2 separate regions of the Homo sapiens genome follow, and region 1 is linked to region 2. The links come from fine-mapping of genetic effects on gene expression. A gene starts in region 2. The other region holds a variant in brackets. All regions are shown on one strand. Distances are from middle to middle.

Evidence for each region. PIP is the estimated chance that this variant, and not a neighbour inherited with it, causes the effect.
Region 1: its variant is fine-mapped to the expression of REXO4 in whole blood (INTERVAL, PIP 0.92).

What each region holds. Positions count from the first base shown.
Region 1 is chr9:133,342,294-133,350,609 of GRCh38, reverse strand. MED22 (mediator complex subunit 22) reads left to right here and starts at 2,479. Exons shown (of 5, transcript NM_133640.5): 1 at 2,479-2,688; 2 at 3,910-4,070; 3 at 5,358-5,438; 4 at 6,277-6,485. The coding sequence starts at 3,948. It overlaps RPL7A (ribosomal protein L7a), which reads right to left and starts at 2,392. Exons shown (of 8, transcript NM_000972.3): 1 at 2,364-2,392; 2 at 1,568-1,688; 3 at 910-1,059; 4 at 558-698; 5 at 291-370; 6 at 1-13. The coding sequence starts at 2,366. It overlaps SNORD24 (small nucleolar RNA, C/D box 24), which reads right to left and starts at 1,214; the gene lies at 1,140-1,214. SNORD36B (small nucleolar RNA, C/D box 36B) reads right to left here and starts at 516; the gene lies at 446-516. It also overlaps SNORD36A. RefSeq lists enhancers at 1,971-2,440, 2,302-2,596, 3,901-4,402, 4,403-4,906, 8,070-8,316. The variant C/T (reference allele first, on the strand shown) is at 4,610.
Region 2 is chr9:133,413,608-133,421,926 of GRCh38, reverse strand. REXO4 (REX4 homolog, 3'-5' exonuclease) reads left to right here and starts at 3,917. Exons shown (of 8, transcript NM_020385.4): 1 at 3,917-4,307; 2 at 6,916-7,262. The coding sequence starts at 4,083. It also overlaps a transcript of ADAMTS13 not described here. RefSeq lists enhancers at 1-35, 266-405, 3,603-3,822 and a silencer at 3,933-4,172.

The sequences.
Region 1 (8,316 bases), 71 kb after region 2:
AGAAGACAACCAGCTGGAAGAAAGCATTAGCTGAAGACTGTATTTTGACCAAAAGCAGCAAATTTCAGTTAGCTTGTAACAATTGCTCAGGGTTAAAAAGCTCATGGATTCGCACTTCAAGGTTGAATTCAGTGAGAGATTCACATCATTGCAAGAGCCACGCATGTGTTGGATCTGTGTCAGTACTGCCCTCACCCACTTCGGTCCCATCACTGACTTGGCATTAGGTCTACTCTCTCTTCCTGGTACTGCCAGAAGCCCTTGGGTTAGCAGTCAACAGGCAAACGCACCTCGATGGGATCCACGTCGTGTGCAATCACCACCAGCTGAGCTTTCTTGTTCTCCACCAAGGTGGTGACGGTGTTAACTCCTAGAACACACAACCACTTTGTGAGCACTCACAGGGCCTGCTCTAGTCACAAGAAGCTGCTGGGCTCAGCTGCTGACTCAGTGTTAAAAAGCTCGGTTTTACTCTTCACAGTAATTTCAGGCCAAGAAATTTTACATCACTGCAACAGCCCGCCCCCAGTGTTCACCCTAAGGTGGGGCCTACTCACCTGCTCGAAGGACAGGTGGTCTCTTCGTTGGGACGTCCCCTTTGCCAGCAGCCTTCTTCTCGGCCCGGGCCAACAGTCTCTGCTTCTTCTCTTGCTTTGTCTCTGGTCTGTACTTGTGGGCCAGCTTAAGCAGCTGAGTAGCTGGAAAAACACTCTTCAGTTTAGGCTTGGAGTCAAGGTTCTAATCCTTGTCACTTAACACTTAATAACAAATGCTGGACTGCGGTCCTGCTATATGACTATAATTTAATGACAACTGCAGTTCAAGAAGCCTAAGACCATCCCCCTCATGTTCTGGATGAAATAAGGAATCCTTGCCTGAGAAACTCCTTTCCACGCCACAGAACCTCACCTGTTTGGCGGTCCAGGGCCTGGGTGAACTGGTTAATCGCAGGAGGCACTTTCAGCCGCTTATAGAGGATGGCTCTCTGCCGCTGCAACCTGATATAGCGGGGCCATTTCACAAAGCGGGTGAGGTCTCTTTTGGGCTGGATGTCCTGTCCTGAGAAGTAAAGGGTGACACCGAGTGAGGCTCAAATTCCATGTCAAGTTCATGTCTGGGGCCACTAGGAAGGGTGTTGGTGCATCAGCGATCTTGGTGGTTTAAAATGTCATCACCATCTCTCAGATAGCAAATATTCTTTTACATCATCTGCACACAAACACCTGAGAACAAAGAGCACGATGCTTTTCCTCATCTAACAAGAAGCCAAGGTGCCACGAAGTACAGCAGAATTGCAGTCCTAGTACCTCGCTGCGACACTGCTACTGTACTTGTTTCCAGATGGCTAAGCTGAATTCAAGGCCACTACCATATTGAGCTGAATGCTCGCTCAGCAACTCCCAATGAAAGCAAGAAGCATGTATCATTGCCCCCGTCTCTAAGAGACACAAATTAAGGACTGCGACCACTTTACACCCACTAAAACCTACAAGATACAACACAACCCAATTACCACCTTCCCTTGAGAAAAACATAGACCGTTTTCATTCTGCCGTTTGTTACTTACCAATGCCAAAATTCTTAGGCCTTTTCTCAAACAGGGGATTCACCACTTTCTTAGCCTCCTGCTTCTTCACGACAGCTGGGGCCGGAGCCACCTTCTTTCCCTTGGCCTTCTTTCCTTTCGGCTGGGCAGAAAGAAAACGTCAGTTAAACCGCCGCCTCCACTCGCTTCGTCGGGGGTAGGGCTCAGGCTGGCTCCTCCAAAACAAGGGACGCTGACAGCACCTGCCTGAACTAAGCTGGCGAGCAGCTTTCTGCAACCCCCCAGCACCACCCCTCGACAGGAGCATCTCACATTCAGCCGCACAAGCATGCAGCCCCGGGAACCCCGAGTGGCCAGAGCAAGGCTAAGCCCGAGACCACGCTCTCTTCGCGTCGCCCACCCAGGAGACACCCCGGACTCATGACTCCTCTGAGTCGCGGCCCCACAGGCTCTAGAAGCAACAGGGGCGGGCTCAGAACTCGTCGCTCACAAGGCCTCTGGAGCGGCCCCCAGCAAGCCCGAGAGACGCTAGGGCTCCGAGCCCCGCACTGCGGTGCTCCAGGCCTGCGACACCCAGCCCTGCGACACCGGGAACAACGCATTCCGCTCTCGGCCGCCCGGGGCTCTAGTCCATCTCAATGTCTCCGTGCCACACCAAGTGGGGCTCTAATCCACCTCGGTGTCTCCGTGCCACACCGAGTGGGGCTCTCCTAGCGCCAGGAGGAGCAGGAGGCCCTCCGAGGCCGCGCCTGGAGGAGGATGGCAGCGGATACAGCCGGAACCTGGCTATAGTGCCACGGAACTACAGCTCACTCACCATCTTGGGCGGCGGGAGGAGAGAGAAAGGAAAGGGAATTGTGGGTAATATGTATGCGGCCTCGGAGATCGCGAGAGTTGATACCGGCACGGGATTTCGGATTTAAAGCAACAGCATTCCTATAAAGCTAAAAATCGAGGCGGGGCCGAGAGGCTGCGGCGGCTGACTAGGTTTTCGGACCGCGGCGCGGCGGGGAAGAGAGACTGCGGCGGGAGGGCCAGGCCGTGGGAGAGACGCGGGAAAGTGCGGGTCGCAGAGGCACTTGACCACCCCGCCCTAGGCCGACCCGGCGGACGCGGCGTCTGGTGTGCGGGCGCTGGGGCGGGTATGAGGGTGTGGTGGGGGGTGGGGATGGAGGGGGGGTGGGTGTGTGGGCGGGAGTGGGGGTGGGTGGGTGCGTAGGCGCTGGGGTCGGAGATCCCCTTTCCTGCGTGTGACTTATTTCCCACACCCCGCCAAAAATGGGCACAAACAATGCGAGTGCGTCCAGGAGTCCGCTCGGTCGTGCGCCAGACTCCGAACCTAGGGGGCCCCGGGCCCTCCCTGAGCACCGCGCGCAAAGGCCCGGCCCCAGGGCCAGGCAACTCCAGCGCCGAGGCCGTCCAGTGCGGCTGGAGGGCAGAGGCCGAGAGGCGCGGCGCGGAACTTGAGCCCCTTGTCCCGGCGCACCGGGGAACCATGAGGGATGTTAAGCGAGGGAGTGGAATTACCCCCCTTTTTTTTTTCTTTTGGAGACGTAGTCTCCCCCTGTCGCCCAGGCTGGAGTGCAGTGGCGCGATCTCGGCTCACTGCGACCTGTGCTTCCCGGGTTCAAGCGATTCTCCTGCCTCAGCCTCCCGAGTAGCTGGGATTACAGGCGCCTGCCATCACGCCCGGCTAATTTTTGTATTTTTAGTAGAGTTGGGGTTTCACCATGTTGGTCAGGCTAGTCTCAAACTCCTGACCTCAGGTGATCCCTGCCTCGGCCTCCCAAAGTGCTGGGATTACAGGCGTGAGCCACCGCGCCCGGTTGGAATGACCACTTTTTAGGACCTCTTCCCTGCCGCGCAGAGACTGGAGGGAGCGGGGCCCGCAGTGCAGGGATGAGGTCTGGAGCGGGGCAGCCTGAGTGGGAGTGGAAGGAAAGCGTGGATGTAGGCGGTGCAGAGGGGTCGAATTGGAAGGACTCTTCGGATGGGAGGGCGTGGCGAAGGTGGCGGCGGGCTAAGAAGTTAAGCCAAGGGCTGGGGACGGGGAGCTGGTGTTGAGTTTGCAGGGCTCCCTGGGACACGCTGTGGGCCTGGACGTGAAGTCTGGACTGGAGCCCTGGACAGGGCTTGGAGGGCTGGCCAGGAGTTCCAGGATGAGCTTGCTCTGGCAAAGGCGGGGCCAGTCCTGGCACCCCCTGCGGTGTCTGCTGATGGAATGAGTTCATCTGTGTTTCAGTGATTGACTTTATTTGGCAGAAAGGGAATCCCCAGAAATCTGCGTGTTCTGCTAAGGTTGGGGCATAGAGGGTGGCTGGGGTAGACTCTGCCTGCACTCAGAGGTCTGTGCTGCACTCTAGGTCCCAGGTCTCCCCGCTGCGCTGCTTGAGGCTCGGCCATGGCCCAGCAGAGAGCCCTGCCCCAGAGCAAGGAGACGCTGCTGCAGTCCTACAACAAGCGGCTGAAGGACGACATTAAGTCCATCATGGACAACTTCACCGAGATCATCAAGACCGCCAAGGTGGGGGTGGGGTGGCCCACCAAGGGGAGCAGAGTCTGAGAAGGGGTGGAGACAGGAGAGGCCAGGGGCTGAGCAGCGCGAGTGAATAGTGTTCTAGGCAGGAAGCACCCAGTGCACAGGGAGCTGGTCAGTAGATAAGCAAACCAAATAATGGCACGTCCAGCCCTTACTAACAGTATGGATTTGGATGGAGATTTCACTTTTTAGTGCCTCAGTTTCTCCTGCATGGTGGGGTCCTTGTGATGACTGGTGAGTTTATCTGTGTAAAACAGTTACCTCGGGGCCTGGCACACAGCCAATGAGCAGGAGAAAAGCAGACTGAGGGGAGAAGTGGGGGGGGGCCTCCAGGCAGGTGGAGCGGTCAGCACTGGGGCCTGCAAGCCTGCTGACCACTGCAGCTACAGCTGCATCAGATTGGGCTGGATCCCTCCTGGCTGCTGCAGACCTGGCAGGCTCCATAAGCGATGATGATGAGGATGGAAGCTAGCATGTACTTAGTGCTTGCCATGTATCAAGCCACGTTGTGAGGTTATCTGTGC[C/T]TGTTCTGCTGAATCTTCATGAGGACTCTGTGAGGTGGGCACTGTTGTCCTCTTCATTTCAGGAGGAAACCCAGGCCCAGGAGACTTAGTGACTTGCCCAAGGTCACTCAGCTCACAACTGGCTGAGCCAGGATTTGAACCCACGAAGTCTGGGTCTTAACCACTGAGGGTACCTGACACCCACCCCGAACTGAGCCTTTGCAAGGCCTGCCGGGAAGCCCCATCCAGCCTCGCTTGGCCACCTATACACCAGGGGTGGCAGGCCAGGCTTCTGTGAAACTGGCATGGGTTAATGGTGGTCAAGTGCATGACACAGCCTGGCACCTGGGAAGTGATCAGGAAATGGTCGCGAAAAAAAACTTAAATCATCCCTTCACTCATCCAACAGTTTACCAAATGCCAAGCAAGTGACAACGGTTCCTACCAAACAGGGCTCCCACAGCCCAAAAAGACCGGGCCAAGATAAGCCCCCATCCCTGCACCTAGTACAGCAAGCAGCGTGGGTTGCCTCTATTTGTCTTGAGCAAAGGTGCATGTTGTCTCCCATGGCCAGAACAAGAGAGGGTGGAATTGAACCTTGTCAGAGGTCTGGCTGACAGCGCTTAGGTCTGTAGATGGCACCACAGACAGGTTGTGGCCAGTGTGGACATCCTGGGTAGATGACAGTTACCGTAAGCTGGGCTGGGCCGGGCCAGGGGTGGGGATGCCTTGGCTGGGTTGATTTCTAGGTTTTCTTGTTTTCCCCCAGATTGAGGACGAGACGCAGGTGTCACGGGCCACTCAGGGTGAACAGGACAATTACGAGATGCATGTGCGAGCCGCCAACATCGTGAGTGGCCAGGGTGGAGGGCACGGCCTGGGCTCCAAGAGCATCAGTCCCCTCAGGTTTCCTGGGTGGAGTGGAGGGGGCTCTGGGGCTGGTCTGGTCTTCTTCCCCCGAGAAGGAGCAGAAGGAGGCAAATGTAGAGATGCTTTGGTTTCACCACTCGGCAGCTTTAAAGAATGAGGTGGGGGCAAATCATTTCTCAGGAGACTGTCCTCACGTGGGGCACTTGGAGGAGGGCTGGGCAGAGAGCCACCCATGCCCGTCCTGTAGCCGTGCAGTGGCCAGAAAGAGGGTAGCCCTTCCTGCTAACTCAGGAGTTCCTAAGGTCAGTTGTGAGTGAAAAGACAAACAGCCGAATGGAACTGTAGGCGCCATTGGATTCCTTCGGATCACAGGAGAAACACAGCAAGCAGATAATTCCGCAGGTGCACGTCCAGGGCTCAAAATGCATGGAAAAAGGTCCCACAGGAGCTCTGCCCAGCTGGCAGCCATGTTAATCCTACCCCGGGGCAGGAGGCAAAATGGGATCGCAGTTTTATCTGTGGGGTTTGAGTTTTTCATGAGCAGAATGTACACCTGCATAATTGGACTGGAGGCCAGTCCTGCAGGAGTGGAAGCCAGAGGCTGACGAGAGGGGAGGGCCTGCCCTGCAGAACTGACATCCCAGTTTTCTCACTTAATTCTCACACATGAACCTGTGGAGGTCAGGGGTAGAGTCCCACTTTGCAGATGAGGAAGCTGAGGCTCCTAGAGAGGCCATCCCTTGCCCAGCATCAGCTACTTGTAGGCAAGGCCGCTGTCCCCCCTCACCCTGTGCCCGCCCTGGTTCTGATGGCCACAGGTCCGAGCCGGCGAGTCCCTGATGAAGCTGGTGTCCGACCTCAAGCAGTTCCTGATCCTCAATGACTTCCCCTCCGTGAACGAGGCCATTGACCAGCGCAACCAGCAGCTGCGCACACTGCAGGAGGAGTGCGACCGGAAGCTCATCACGCTGCGAGACGAGATCTCCATTGACCTCTACGAGCTGGAGGAGGAGTATTACTCGTCCAGGTATAAATAGCGCTGGACTCCCCATGCAGAGCGGGAGCCTGCCTACCTGGGCCTGGCCAGCAGGCAGGGCTGCCTTCTGCTTTTTCAAATTCTTGCTGGTCTTAGCAGTGGAGCCATGCCTGGGTTTCAGAGCAGAGCTCCTGGCCAGAGCGTTTGACCGACAGACAATTCACATCCATATGCCAGGGCCCTGGGCCTTTCCCACAGTGCAATGTGATGAAAACCACAGGACTCACGCCAGTCGGATAGGCCGAGTCTGGAGAAGGGAGGCGCCTGGCTGTATCCCCCGCAGGCCCTCTTCCGAGAGCCTTCCTCCTCGGGCAGTGCGTTCTGGGGCTGTGCTGCTCCTGTTACCTTCTGAATCCATATGTAGAGATTTCAGCCAAGGCTGGGCCAGCCTTTTTTGGGCAGTCAGGTCCACACCTATGTCCAGGGCACCAGGGATGCAATTCCATGTGGATGTCACCAAACCCCAGTGTGGAGGCAGGGACAGTCATGGGAATGTGGGGGATGAAGCCCAGGCAGGGAATGGCCTTGAAAGCCATTGGAGCTCCAATTCGTGACCCACTCAGCCTTATCCACGGAGCTGGAGCCAACCTACGTGCCAGGCCCCGTGCTGGGTCCCAGGGATGCAGAAGGGTCAAAACCCATCATCCTGACCCTTGTGGGGCTCCGTAAGAAGCTGAAACCTTCGACCGTTTGAGCTGGAGGGGCCCTGAGAAATCAGAGTCTACGTATCATTTACTTAGGGGGAAACTTAGGCTGGAGACAGGGAGGCCTTCCACTCTGCCCCATTAGCTTAGAAAATCAAGATTCAGTCCAGCAGATGCAGAGTCCATGTCCATCTTGTGCCTTCTCCTGGACAAACCTTTCCTTCCTGGTGGTGGATTTAAAATACTCCTTTCTGCCCATTGGCCATGCTGGGAGCCACAGATATCCAGAGCCAGCATGACCTGGGGCTTGGTTTCCCTGCCCTGGGCTCAGTGGCACTGCTGAGCTGCAGCAGTCCTAGAGTTTTCCAGGGGGTTCTGAGGGAATCTTTGGTCCCCAGTACTCATTAACTCAGCAGACATGAGGCAGCATTTCCTCCACACTAGGGTGGCTGAGAGGGGTCCTGGGGTGTTTCAGACCCTTCTGGGCATCTCCTTCCACAGCTGTTCAGTTTGTCGGTCTCTTTGAGGCAGCCACCGTCCCTGAGGGCCCCTGCACAGAGCAGCTGTGGGCCTGTAATTCAGCCTGCCTGCCTTGCCTTGGGGCAGGGAGAGAGGGAACCTGCTCACGGCCCTGCAGCAGAGCAGGGCGCAAACCCAGGACATCTGTGCCAGGCTTCCCATGCCCTCCCCCAACAGTCCCTCAGCTTCACCCAGCGGGGCTTCCAGGCCAGCCTGTGTCCCCTCCCGCAGGCCTCCTGTCCACACCAGCGCCCCCTGGGGGGCCTCACACAGCCCCTGTGGCAGAAGCAGTTGCCCTCCTCTGTACATTGCCTTTAAGCGACCAGGTCCTGGCCGAGTTTCCTCTGCCCCTTCTTGCTGGTCCCCCAAAGGGCGCTCCGCTCCCTGCCCTGCCCTGCCCTGTTCCGCATGAGCTGCGCCTCTGTGCTCGCCTGCCCCCTCTCTGCTTGTTAGTTGCTCTTTCTGGCTCTGCCTCTCCTTTGCGTTCCTCGGGATGCCACTCTGTGCCCAGGACGGTTCTGAGACTGAACACTGAGGGCAGGAGCAAGGGAGGAAGCCAGGGGCGAGGCAGGCCGCGGGAAAGCCAGGGCCCCTGCCTGCAGGTTAGAAAGAGGCGAGCGTGGATTGTCACAGCTGCGGGCATGGGAAGGGCTAGCTGA
Region 2 (8,319 bases):
GATCTCAGCATCATCACAAACGGCCTGGCAATCCCCTTCATCTCCTGGAAGACTCACTTCACATGCTCCAAACCACTCTTTTACACCCACAGAGCCGCACAAGCTGATGACCAGCAGGGGGATTCACCTTGTCTTTCCACCCCTCAAAGTGCAGCCTCTCTCCTCCTCTGCGATCAGGGAGGACACACCTACACTTCCTGCCAGGCCCTGGCTCTGGATCCCTTCCCAGCTCTCTCCTCCTGCATCGTTAGTTTCTGCCCCTCTGCTAGAGCCATTCATTCATTCCTTCAGCCAACAAATGTTTCACTGAGCCCCTGAAACAGGCCAGGCTCTGTGCTAGACACCAGGAAAGCAGCCCCAAGCCAGGCAGACAGCAGCCTCGGCCTCTCACAGCTTAAATTCTAGGGAAGAGAGCCAGACAGCAAAGTTGCTAGACAGACACATGTTGTATATGTAGTATGTTCAAAGGTGGTAAGTGTTATGGAGAAAAATACAGCAGAATAAAGGAATGGGGGACTGGAGGGAAGGGTGTGCTTTCATGCAGGAAGGTAAGGAGGCTGTTGGAGAAGGGGGCATGCTTAGATATCGAGATCCTGGTACCTGGCTCACTCCATCAGCATGAATGACTCTCCTGTCTCTTTTTGGTTTTTGTTTGTTTTTTGAGACAGAGTCTTGCTGTGTCACCCAGGCTGGAGTGCAGTGGCACGATCTCGGCTCACTGCAACCTCCGCCACCCAGGTTCAAGTGATTCTCCTGCCTCAGCCTCCCTTGTGGCTGGGATTACAGGCACCCGCCATCACGCCTGGCTAGTTTTTGTATTTTTAGTAGAGGTGGGGTTTCGCCATGTTGGCCAAGCTGGTCTCAAACTCCTGACCTCAGGTGAGCTGACTGCCTCGGCCTCCCAAAGTGCTGGGATTACAGGCATGAGCCACCAAGCCCAGACACTCTGGTGTCTCTTGATTACAATCAACAACCTTCCCTTGACCCACACTGTCCTCCTGCCATAGCCCTGTTTCTGGCTGTCTTTAAGAACTTAGAAACATTATTTTCAGTGGCTATCTCCACTTCCTTGCCTTCAATTCCCACATACCATTGAAATTGATCTTTAAAAGGTCACCAATAACTTTGTGAACCCTGAAAGAGCCAATCCTTCTTGATGGATCCCAAGTTACTAACTGGGCCTAAATTCAAAGTAGGACCTAGCAGCCATTTGCTGACTAGGGTCACACACACATTCTGCGTTCCTGGAAAGCCCCCACTCTCACTTAACTCTGGGATGGTTTCACAGCTATCTGTTCCTGTTTATGCCGCCAGAATCAACCCATCGACTGTGACCTGCATCGACCAATCTGAACTCAGCAAGTATTAACCAATCAGAACTAAGCAAGTGTGCCTTCCTCATTTGCATAAGTGGACCAAAGTGGGAACCTGGGCAGGAAGTTCTCTACAAAAGACGACCTCTTTCTTTGTTCTCTTTGTTCCCTGGAATGCACCTTTGTACAGAAGGCTGCATTGCCCTGGTTTACAAACTGCTGGAACAAAGTTTTTTTCCTTTTTTAAAAAGAAAACCTGGGCCAGGTGTGGTGGCTCACGCCTTTAATCCCAGCACTTTGGGAGGCCGAGGCAGGTGGATCACGAGGCACGCGGATCATGAGGTCAGGAGTTCGAGATCAGCCTGGCCAGCATAGTGAAACCCCGTCTCTTTTCAAAAATACAAAAATTAGGCTAGGTGCGGTGGCTCACGCCTGTAATCCCAACACTTTGGGAGGCTGAGGCGAGAGGATCACCTGATGTCTGGAGATCCATACCAGCCTGGCCAACATGGAGAAACCCCATCTCTACTAAAAGTACAAAATTAGCCGGGCGTGGTGGCACATGCCTGTAATCCCAGCTACTCGGGAGGCTGAGGCAGAAGAATCACTTGAACCCGGGAGGTGGAGGTTGCGGTGAGCCGAGATTGCGCCATTGCACTCCAGCCTGGGCGACAAGAGCATAACTTCGTCTCAAAAAAAAAAAAAAAATTAGCTGGGCATGGTGGCGTGCACCTGTAGTTCCAGCTACCCAGGAGGCTGAGGCAGGAGAATCGCTTGAACCCGGGAGGTGGAGATTGTGGTGAGCCGATATCACGCCACTGCACTCCAGCCTGGGCAGCAGAGCAAGACTCCGTCTCAAAACAAACAAAAAAAAAGAAAACCCTTTTCGGTGGACTTGCTGACAATCTCAGTGCCATATCTGGTTCCCATCTCTCTGTCCTCGTCCTTCTCAGCCTCTCAGCAGCATCTGATGTGGTTTATTCTCCCCCTGGATTCTCTGATGCCACTCACATCCGCTTCTCCTCCCACTGCACTGACTGCTCCCCCTCAGCCTCCTCTGCTGCTTCGCCCCTGGAGAGCCCCCAGCACCTGCTATCTGGTCTTAACCCTTCACTCCCTATATTGGTACTCTCTCTTTGGATGAACTAACCCAGGTTCATGTTTCAACACTAATTATGTGCTGACGATTTCCAAATTACATCTCCAGCACTGACCCTTCCCTAAGCTTAGGAATCTTATATCCTGCTGCTGATTAGACGTCTCTCCTTGGTGACTGACGGCCCGTTCAAACTCAGCAAGTGTGAAAAGGAGCTCATGGCTCCACCCCCATACTTCACCCTGCTCCCCGCAGACATTTATTGAGATGATAAATGGCCACACCCAATTGCTCAGACCAAAATCCTAGGAGCCTCACTTCCCTGTTACTCCATCAACCTCTGCCTGTTACACACGCACATCAAATCTACCCACTCCCGGCCGGGCACGGTGGCTCACACCTGTAATCCCAGCGCTTTGGGAGGCCGAGGCGGATGGATCACTGGAGGTCAGGAGTTCAAGACAGCCTGGCCAACGTGGCGAAACCCCAGGTCTACTAAAAATACAAAAATTGGCAGAGAGTGGTGGCGTGCACCTATAGTCCCAGCTACTCAGGAGGCTGAGGCAGGAGAATCGCTTGAACCCAGGCGGCAGAAGTAAGGGAGGAGACCACCCCTCATATTGTCTTATGCCCAATTTCTGCTTCCAAATAAAGAAGTAAAAACTAAAAGGCAGAAATAAAATCCACAGGCAGACAGCCCGGCGCCGCGCCCTGGGCCTGGTTAAAGATCAATCCTTGACCTAACCGGTTATGTTATCTATAGATTTCAGACATTGTATGGAAAAGCATTGTGAAAATCCCTGTCCTGTTCTGTTGCGTTCTGATTACCGGTGCATGCAGCCCCCAGTCACGTACCCCCTGCTTGCTCAATCGATCACGACCCTCTCACACAGACCCCCTTAGGGTTGTAAGCCCTTAAAAGGGACAGGAATTGCTCACTCAGAGAGCTCGGTTTTTGGAGACGTGAGTCTGCCGATGCTCCCCACTAAATAAAGCCCTTTCCTTCTACAATTCGGTGTCTGAGGGGTTCTTGTCTGCGGCTCGTCCTGCTACAGAGTGAACTGGCAGGAACTCCTCCCGGTGCCTGGGCCTCAGTTTCCCCACTGTACGTGGAAGATGAGCCGCTGTGAGGCTGAGCAAGGAGCAGCCCAAGGCGGGAAAGGCTCGAGAGTCCAGGACGCAGGCGAGCGACCTAGCCCGGCTCTCACTAGCCCCACCGCCCAGTGCCCCCAGCTCAGCTGCCCTACCAGGTGCTACACACACAGCGGCCCCCCAGTTCCCTTCCGGCGTTCGCATCTCTCATCCCCATCCCGGATCTTGGGGAGGTCCTCGGCTTGCCCCAGTCAAACTCGAGGTCGATGACCCCGGATGCCGCTGGCTAAGGCGGCGGCCCAAGTCCCGTGCGGGTGAACCGCCCAGGCTGCGCGGAACCAGAGGCAGGGATCCGGTTTCCAGCCGGTTGTGGAGAGACGAGCGCTTCCGGGGACTGGAGCGTGCGTGCTGAGGTATGCGCAACGCGTGCGGGGTCTCTTCCGGAGTCTTTTCCTGGACGGGGTCCCTGCGGTGGGTGTGTTTCGGCCTGGCCTGGGCAGGCGCTTGTGCTGCCAGGGCGCCGGGCCCGGGGAGGCCGGGGTCTCGGGTGGCCGCCGGCCCAGGCGCTGGACGGCAGCAGGATGGGGAAGGCGAAGGTCCCCGCCTCCAAGCGCGCCCCGAGCAGCCCCGTGGCTAAGCCGGGTCCTGTCAAGACGCTCACTCGGAAGAAAAACAAGAAGAAAAAAAGGTTTTGGAAAAGCAAGGCGCGGGAAGTAAGCAAGAAGCCAGCAAGCGGCCCCGGTGCTGTGGTGCGACCTCCAAAGGCACCAGAAGACTTTTCTCAAAACTGGAAGGCGCTGCAAGAGGTGAGGCTTGAGGGGGCCCGGGCGGAGCGCTGCGCAGCTCATTCCCGCAGAACGCGACGGAGGGAAAGACTTGGGTAGCCCCAAAAGACCTGTAAAGGCAGATTTGAATCGAAATCTTGTAAACAGCTTTTCACAAGAAAGGTGGCCTGTTGAGGGAGGTCTCGAACTTGTTTGCTTGAAAGAAATTGATGAAAGAATTATTTCAAGTACAAAAAAGCAAAGATAAACCCTTGTACCTTTTGCATAATGAACTAACTAGAATGGATTTTACAAAGAGAAATTTAGCTTAAAATCCCGAAACCAGGCCGGGCGCGGGGCCTCACGCCTGTGATCCCAGCACTTTGGGAGGCCGAGGCGGGCAGATCCCCTGAGGTCAAGAGTTCAAGACCAGCCCGGCCAACATGGTGAAACCCCGTGTCTACTAAAAAAGTACAAAAAATATTAGCCGGGCGTGATGGCGCGCGCCGGTAGTCGCAGCTACTCGGGGAGCCTGAGGCAGAAGAATCGCTTGAACCCGGGAGGCAGAGGCAGTAGTAAGCCGAAATCGCGCCACTGCACTCCAGCCTGGGCGACAGAGCGAGACTCCATCTCAAACAACAACAACGAAAGAACACACTGGTCTGTGTAGCAAGACAGGGAGAAAGAAGATTCCTGTGTAGAAGTGAAAAGCAGATAGCAGACATGTGATGGGGTTCTAGCGACACTTACGGTCTTGAAGTAAATACTAATTGAGCTCCTAAAAATGTGCACTCTGCCATGTGCTCTATGCCATGCGTGTTGCAATCCCCACAATAAGACTGTGAGGTGGACACTTCCATCATCGCTATTGTACAGATGAGGAAATAGGCTGGAAAAGTTTAAATAGATCATCTAAGATTGCGGCTGGGAACCAGGTGGCTGACTCTGGAGTCCATGCTTTTAAGGCTGTGTTGTACCTGCTGTCTCCCTAGTGACCTGCACTTCTGTAGAGGTTGCCTGCTCTCTCCTAGACACTCTTCCACGTGCGTCACTCATACATTCTTACCACATCCCTTGGAGCTCCCTTGGAGCTACCTCCTGTTAGGATCATAGCTCACTGCTGCCTGGGCTCCAGTGATTCTCCTGCCTCAGCCTCCCGAGTAGCCCACACGTGTAATCCCAGCACTTTGGGAGGCCCAGGCAGGAGGATCACTTGAGCTCAGGAGTTCAAGTCCAGCCTGGGCAACATGGTGAGATTCCATCTCTAAATAAAAGTAAAAAGTAGTTTTTTTAAAAAAGAAATGTGATCCCCAGTGGTGGAGATGGGGCCCATAGGAGGTATTGGGTCATGGGGGTAGATCCCTCATGAATGACTTGGTGCCCTCCCCTCAGTAACGAGTAAGTTCTCACTCTGCTGGTTCATTTGAGAGCTGGTTGTTTAAAAAGAGCCTAGCACCTTTTTTGCTTGCTCTCTCACCACGCAACACACCTGCTCCCCCTTCACCTTACACCATGATGGGAAGCTTCCTTCGGCCTCACCAGAAGCAGATGCTGGCACCATGCTTCTTGTACAACCTGCAAAACCATGAGCTACATAAACGTTTTTTCTTTATAAATTACCAAACACAGGTATTCCTTTATAGCAGTGCACAATGAACTAATACAGATGGGGTTTCACTTTGTTGCCCAGGCTGGTCTTCAACTCCTGACCTCAAGCAATCCTCCCACCTCAGCCTCCCCGAGCGCTTCTTGAACCTCCTAATACTCTGCACAGTATCTCAGTGCAGACATTCCTGTCTTAACACACAGGACCAGTCAAATTCCCGTGGGCAGCCCCAGGGTTCTGTGGGATTTCTTGAACACCAACTCTTCTTCCTTCTCCCAAGAAAGAAAAGCAAAATAAGTGAATGGAAGGGATGTGTGCTATAGGGAAACTTTGGAGTGTTTTCTAATTCATCCAAGAAAGTCAGCCCTTCAGTTCTTTACCTATCACAGAACAGGTAAGTAGCACCCGCCTCATCATCGCACTGTGGTGGCGCCCACTCCCACTGGGGATTTGAACACAGGGAGGAAGCTGGGCTCTAAGACTACAGGAGCCTCTGCTTGGGTGACAGCCAAGGTGTGTGGCTGCTAGCAGTTCTTCAGCCACTCCAGTTTGACAGAAGCTTTTCTTTTCATTTATGACACCCCCCACCTTCCTGAGATCTTCACAGCAGTAGCAAACCAGGGAATCTTGTAAAAAAAAAAAAAGCGATTTCTGTGTAGCAGGATGTTGGCCCAAGCTGTGAGGGAAGTTAACTCCAAAATTCTTTCTAGATAAGCTGAAAAGGGAAGTGGTCTGTGGTGTCCAGCCACTCAACAGGTACCCAAGGTGTAGAATGAGTTTGACATTTTGTATGCATGAAGGAGCAGGTGCAAAATGCATTATAATAAGATAAGCAAAGAAACAGCATTTCACCACAAGTGACCCATGAGAATGAAAAAGAGCTTTTTCCAAACCGTTTGAAAATGAATTTCAGTGATGCGGATGGGAATTGTATAGATGTGTTTGGTGTATATGTGTGTATATACATACACACGTAAGTTTTTTCAATCTGCTGTGTGTAATTTCCAAATTCAAATGCAGCATGTATTTTATTTTGGGTCCCAGTGGCTGCTGAAACAAAAATCTCAGGCCCCAGAAAAGCCTCTTGTCATCTCTCAGATGGGTTCCAAAAAGAAGCCCAAAATTATCCAGCAAAACAAAAAAGAGACCTCGCCTCAAGTGAAGGGAGAGGAGATGCCGGCAGGAAAAGACCAGGAGGCCAGCAGGGGCTCTGTTCCTTCAGGTTCCAAGATGGACAGGAGGGCGCCAGTACCTCGCACCAAGGCCAGTGGAACAGAGCACAATAAGAAAGGAACCAAGGAAAGGACAAATGGTGATATTGTTCCAGAACGAGGGGACATCGAGCATAAGAAGCGGAAAGCTAAGGAGGCAGCCCCAGCCCCACCCACCGAGTAAGTATGGGCCACCTCACCACTGAGAACCGAGGCACAGCGACTTCACCAAGGCCTGTCTCCTTATGGAGGCTGGTGGCCTCACCGCAGTCTCTCCATCACTTTACCCTGATGTCGTCTGTTCCTTTGTTTACTCGCTGTTACTTGTTTTCCCCTAGAGTGTGCGCATGATAAGGCAGGGCCTGCTTCTTCCGAGCGTTGAGCAGAGCTCAGCATTTAGTGGGTGCCAGTACACGTGTGTGGAAGGAAAGCGTGCTGAAGCCAGAAAGACCCAAGTATGAGGCCTGTCCCTGCTTCTCGCCAGTTGGGTGGTTTGGGGCAAGTTTCTGACGTCCTCTGTGCCTTGTGGTAGTCATGGTGGCATCATAAGGAGATTGTGAGGTTGGCACTCTTGGCTCAGTGCCTGGTGATTACTTCAACCCTGTGATGGAGCCAGGTGTGGTGGCTGTTGCCTGTGATCCCAGCTCCTTGGGAGGCCAAGGTGGGAGGATCACTTGATCCCAGGAGGTTGAGGCTGCAGTGAGCTGTGATTGCACTACTGCCTCCAGCCTGGGTGACGGAGCAAGACTCTCAAAAAAACAAGTGAAAAGAATAAACCCTGTGCTGGCCACCCACGTGGGGTGGACCGGGAGTCAGTGGCCTTCTCTGAATGGTTCAGCTGGAGGTGACGTGTTCATAAGTTACAGCTGGCTTCATGTTGCCTGGGTGTTCAGGACACAGTCGCTGATGGCTGAGGAATGAGCCATTTGGGGGCCTCCCTGTGTTGTGCTAGGCAGGCTGTCTGGGATAGAGTTCAGTGAGGTGGGCCTGCTCCTCCCTCTTGAGGCTTATTGTCAAGTGCAGTAGACAGACTGTAAACTGCAGCTGTTGATTAAGTGTGGTCAGGATAAATCTAGTGAGGAGAAGGTATTGGGCGCCTGGAACAAGAGGGACGTGTCCATTCAGTGGGGCCAGGAATGGCTTTTCTAAGGAAATGACATTTAACCTTAGCCCAAGAGACAGATTCCCCAGGCAGGTGTTACGTGCCTGTGTGAGCTTCCTAGTACGGAGGGCAAGG